2 separate regions of the Homo sapiens genome follow, and region 2 is linked to region 1. The links come from fine-mapping of genetic effects on gene expression. Tissue or cell type: whole blood. Region 1 holds a variant in brackets; the other region holds the start of a gene. All regions are shown on one strand. Distances are between the middles of the regions.

Evidence for each region. PIP is the estimated chance that this variant, and not a neighbour inherited with it, causes the effect.
Region 2: C10orf143 starts here. The variant in region 1 is fine-mapped to the expression of C10orf143 in whole blood (TOPMed, PIP above 0.99). The same link has a PIP of 0.9 or more in tibial nerve.

What each region holds. Positions count from the first base shown.
Region 1 is chr10:130,070,322-130,073,078 of GRCh38, forward strand. The region is part of intron 3 of C10orf143 (chromosome 10 open reading frame 143); the gene reads right to left. Among named protein-coding and RNA genes, the nearest start is that of C10orf143, 39 kb to the right of the region's middle. The variant G/A (reference allele first, on the strand shown) is at 1,432.
Region 2 is chr10:130,109,411-130,112,167 of GRCh38, forward strand. It overlaps C10orf143 (chromosome 10 open reading frame 143), which reads right to left and starts at 1,420. Exons shown (of 4, transcript NM_001355042.2): 1 at 1,294-1,420. The coding sequence starts at 1,362. LOC102724883 (a long non-coding RNA gene) reads left to right here and starts at 1,883. Exons shown (of 3, transcript NR_188169.1): 1 at 1,883-2,706. RefSeq lists enhancers at 475-584, 745-924, 1,785-2,114, 2,595-2,724 and a silencer at 1,115-1,494.

The sequences.
Region 1 (2,757 bases):
ACCCCCGGACCTGGTGCAGCCTGTCCACATGCACGTCACAGTGCAGTCCCCTTAGCAGCTCAAAGATGCATTCCAAGCTCTTCTGGCATCTATTGCTACTAATGAGAGATCTGTTGTCAAATTATCATCCCTTCATGCTTAGCCAGTCATTTCTCTCTAGCAGCTCTACACGTTTCTCTGCCTTTGATGTCCTCCAGTGTCATGATGACCTATCTATGTGTGGATACATCACACCCAAGACTCACAAAACTTAGGGGATAAAACATTAGATATCACCAAAACACTGCACCCTGAGCCCTTCCACTCAGTAGAAATAACGCCCTTATTTTGAAGTTGTTTACCACTCTCATAAATGTTTTTATTCCTTTAGTAGATATATATCAATGTTTCCCATGCTTAAAATTGTATCTAGATAGTATCATTCTACGTAGATCCTTCTGTAATTTCCTTTTTTCTCCATTTGATTTGATCCATTTTCACTGCTCTCTGTAACACTTCATTGAGTAAATCTATTGCAATTCATTTATTCATTCTATTGATGAACATTTAGGTTGTTTCTGGCTTTTCTTACTCTAACAGTGCAACAACAAATATTTTGTTTTGTTTTGTTTTGAGACAGAGTCTTGCTCCGTCACCCAGGCTGGAGTGCAGTGGTGGGATCTTGGCTCACTGCAACTTCCACCTCACAGGCTCAAGTGATTCTCTTGCCTCAGCCTCCTGAGTAGCTGGGACTACAGGCATGCGCCACCATGCCTAGCTAATGTTTTTTGTATTTTTAGTAGAGATGAGGTTTCACCATATTGGCCAGGCTGGTCTCAAACTCCTGACCTTAAGTGATCTGCCTGCCTCAGCCTCCCAAATACAACAAATATTTTGTATACACTTTCTTGGGCATCTACTAGGGTATACACCTAGGACCATATCTTCTAGCTTACCAGAAATGCCCACCATAAGCTTTACCCATGTACATGGCTTCTGAGGAAGTGAACACATCCTTTCACTCTACCTCACTCACAGTTATAGCACCATTTTTATTTTTGCTAATTTGATGGTTTAATTTGCAAGCCCTTAAATTACTAGTAAGGTTGAACACCTATTTATATTTATTGGCTATTTTGGGTTTCCTCTTCTCTGAACTGCCAGGTCATATACTTTGCCCATTTATTTACTGGACTGATTTGCATATTTATTCAAGAAACCCATCTTTATATTTTGTGCATTGTAAATATCTTTCCTGCAAAAAGCTTTTCTTAGACAATGATGAAAGAATTCTGATATGTAGCATGTCTTAATATATACAGTTATATTCTATATTTTTTTTTTGAGACACAGTTTCACTCTTGTTGCCCAGGCTGGAGTGCAATGGCACAATCTCGGCTCACCGCAACCTCTGCCTCCTGGATTCAAGAGATTCTCCTGCCTCAGCCTCCC[G/A]AGTAGCTGGGACTACAGGCATGCACCATGCCTGGCTAATTTTTTATTTGCAGTAGAGATGCAGTTTCTCCATGTTGGTCAGGCTGGTCTTGAACTCCCAACCTCAGGTGATCTGCCCACCTTGGCCTCCCAAAGTGCTGGGATTATAGGCATGAGCCACCGCGCCTGGCCGTCATATTCTATATTTTCTACTAACAATGTTAAAGGTTTTTCTTTCATATATAGGTTCTTATTAACTCCCACCCCCACCTCCCACCTCCTAGAATTGATTTTGTGTGAGGCAGAGATCTAATTTTATCTTTCCTCATATATGGATAACTAATTGCCCTGGCACAATTTATAGGTGTATGTAAATCTCATTTATAATGCCTTCAAACTGCCATATATGCATGTTTAAAGATCTCAATTTTATTTCATTGGTTAGTCTACACTTAGGCCAATTAACACATTGTCTTAATGGTCACAGCTTTGTAATATATCTTGATATCTGATGGATAATTTCCCTTGCTTGTTATTCTACTTCAAAATTGTTTGACCACATATGCCTTTCTTCAATTCTGGAAAATTCTCAGCCATTATCTTTTCAACTATTCTACTCAAACATTCTCTAAAGTCCTTCCTTCTGGATTTCCTAATGGGCATTCTCATTCTTTCCTCTATGACTCCTAATTACACTTTTATACTATCCATCTTTTTATCTCTCTTGCTGTGCTTGGGGGATTTATCCAGCTCTATCTTCTAATTCACTAATTCTGTCTTTAACTGTGTCTAATCTGATGACTTTTTAAAAAAACTTCAATGAACATATCATGCACTTTTAGTTCTTTTTAAAAAAACCTTCCAATTTTTTTTCAAACTGTCTTCCTTTCTTACTATGGCTCTATTTCTTCTTTAATCATTTTATAAAATAACTACAGGATACTTCAGAGACATGGCAGGCTTGGTTGCAGAACACTGCAATAAAGTGAGTCACACAAATTTTTTGGTTTCTCAGTGCATATACAAGTTTTGTTTACAATATGCTTGTAGTCTATTAAGTGTGCAACAACATTCTGCCTAAAAATATGTACACACCTTAATTTAAAAATACTTTGTTGTTTTAAAATGCTGACACAGAAGCATGAGATGAGGATATGCTTTTGGGACAATGGCACCAAACAGACTTGTTCAATGCAAGGTTGCCACAAATCTTCAATGTGTAAAAACCACAGTACCTTCAAAGCACAATAAAGTGAAGTGCAATAAAATGAGTTGTGCCCGTACTTTATATCCACCTTCAGGTTCTTCAATTATTTCAGATTGTTAGAGACTTTGATTCTACTGTTT
Region 2 (2,757 bases), 39 kb after region 1:
GCCCTACGCCTATATTTAGTGACCCTGGGCTCCACCCCACTGGACTGCTCACGTCCATGCTGTTCTGTGCAGGAGAATCAAACTTCCATCTTGTTAGGGCCAGCGTGCTTTGAAGGCTCTTGGTTACAAAAGCACCCTAACCTGCTATATTACTGTACTATACTATTACTATACTACATTACTATACCATATTATTACTATATTACTGGGGTAACCTGCACCCTAGTAATATAACAATTGGTACCTGGAGGAGGGGTGCGGCTGTGATAGAAACCTAAGTGGTACTGGCTTCACGGCCAGGCAGTGAGTAGTGAGGAAAGAGATGGTGCAGGGTAGAAAGCTAGTCATTCCCGCTACGCAGTAAAGACATCTAAAAAAATGCTGCCTGTATTAACTGGGAAGACGGATCCTGCACTTACCAAGCCTGTGTAGCTCTAGAAGAAAAAAAAAAGCAAATATGCGGTATGTTGGCTGCTCACTGCTGCCCCTAGCGAGGAACTTTGAAATAAACGAGGTTAAGTAAGAACTGGCCAATTTGCAAGCAGAGGTGGAAGATAAAATACAGGAATGCCAAGCAGCTCTGTCTTCCAGCTCCAATCCTGCAGTACTTCTTTCAGTGCCCCTAAGACGCTAAGCTCCTTCCTCCAACACTGTTTTTTGTCACCTCCCATCCTGCCTACCCCCGGTCATCCTTCAAGTCTCACACATACCTGACTTACCCACGCACCCTGGGATCTTGTGCAAGTCTCCCCATTACCATCTCATCTTACCCTCTGCTCATCAGTTAATGGACTCAGCCCAAGAAGCACTAACACGCTCAATGCCGGGTAATTTTCTGCGCGTGTTCGCTCCCCACGTACTCGTCCCCCAACACCCAGCCCTGGGCCTGGCACGTGGCAGGCGCTCAGTGAACGAGACTCAGGAACAGTCAGGTGTAGACGGCAGGAGAAGACATGACACGGATACCAAGCACCCGAGGTCCTGCAATGAGTCTCGGCCCATGTTTTAGGGAGCCTGGGTCTGGAGCCCCAGTGAGCGTGTGGGTCAGGAAGGTGCCCGAGCTCCGCGCCCGACCGCGCAGGCGCGAAACCGGGAGAGCGGCGTCACAACCCCGCCCTAACAGGCCACGCCCATCACTGGCCACGCCCTCCCAGGGACGTACGCGAGCGTGCGAGTGTCTTGGGCCAGGCCTCCTCACAGGCAGGGCCGCGCCGGCAAAAACGAGGCGCGGTGGGAACCCGCCCAGGGGCCATCCGCCCTCCCGTCCCTAACGCCCAGGCCCCGGGGGCTCACCACGTCCCCCGGAACCTGCAGATCCTCCGCCCTCCGCTGTCGCCAGCGGCCGAGCGCTAAGCTGTCCATGCAGCCCCAGGGTCAAACCCTCCCGGCATCTCAGGCCTGGCCGAGGCCCGCGCACCACGCCCCCTTCCGCACAAGGCCCTGGGGAGCCAATAAGGAGAGGGAGGGGCGGGACGCCGCGGGAAGCGCGAGAGCACCAAGGCGAGGACCGCAGGCAGGAGTAGCAGAGACCAGAGTCTTCTGAGACTATTGGGATGCTGTGGGCGTTGTCCGTCTGCCCCAAGTCATTACTTCGCAGAGAGGTCCCTGCATATCTCTGCTTGTCGCTTCTCCCTTCACAGGAGCAGCCGTGGGGCTCTAAAGAAAGCATTCTTTCAGGATCCCGCCAAACTTTTGACAACACCCCGTGGATCGGCTGGAGGAGCGCCCGCCTCCTCTGTCTTATGATTGGTTGTTAGGCCTCGTGGGGAGCCGTCTCCCTGTGGCTGGTTGGCTAATAGATGGCGCAGCGGGTCAATTAGCTTGAGCGAGACAGCGGGTGTTTCTGGGAGTTGTGGTCCGCAGGGCTGCCTCGCTTCCGGGTGGGAGCTGCTGTTGCCGCGGTGGGAAGACGCAGAGCTTTCAGGCCAGCCCCGCGCGGCTCACGGCTTTTGTGGCTGGTGGCTGGTGGCTGCTGGTTGGGAGGCCCCGGAAGGACTTCTACTCCTCCGTAGGCTGGAGGGCACTAGGAGGTCGCAGGTGCTGAGCTGCCGGGGCCTTTGGGCTGTGCTGAAGGGGAAAAGCGCAGCCACTGTCGGGAGTGTGTGCTGTGGAGGCAGTTGCCGCGGTGATGTTCGCTCCGCCTGGCCCCTGCCGGGGATTCAGCCAACCAACCCTCAACAGCCGGCGGCGGCTCAGTCTCTGGCCCGGCGCGGTGCTGAGCACCACTGAGCCCTCATCTTAGGGCACCGAGGCCCGGACTCCTGCAGCCGCATGTCCAGGCCCCTCCTGCCTTAGCACGGAGCTCCCTTGACTGCTCCAAACAGCCCAGACTGGCGCCTTTTTTGGATAAATTAAAACGGGGCCAATCCGTTGCCAGCGATTGGCTAACGATGGGTACACGACCTAGTACGGGCCAGGGAGAAGTAAGCGAGGTCTGTTGAGGCAGAGTTTCGGGAAAGATCTTCTAGTTAAAAGGGGAGTTGGGTGGGTGGGGGCTGTTTTCTTCCTGTTGTCCTTGCCCAGTGTAAGTTTCCTGGAGCTGCAGCAGCCTTTTTGTCACCATGAGGGCAGCTGGTGGGAACCCTAGGAAAGCAGGAAATCACCTAGAGCCGGAACAGCCTGAGCCTCTGAACCAACCCACAGCTGACTACCCGTCACTTTGTCGTGTCTCTGTGATTTGAGTCCATCATTCTGCTGCAGTTGAAGGTATCCTTTGACAAAGCCCTGTTCTTAACCATTATGGTGAAACGCATGAAT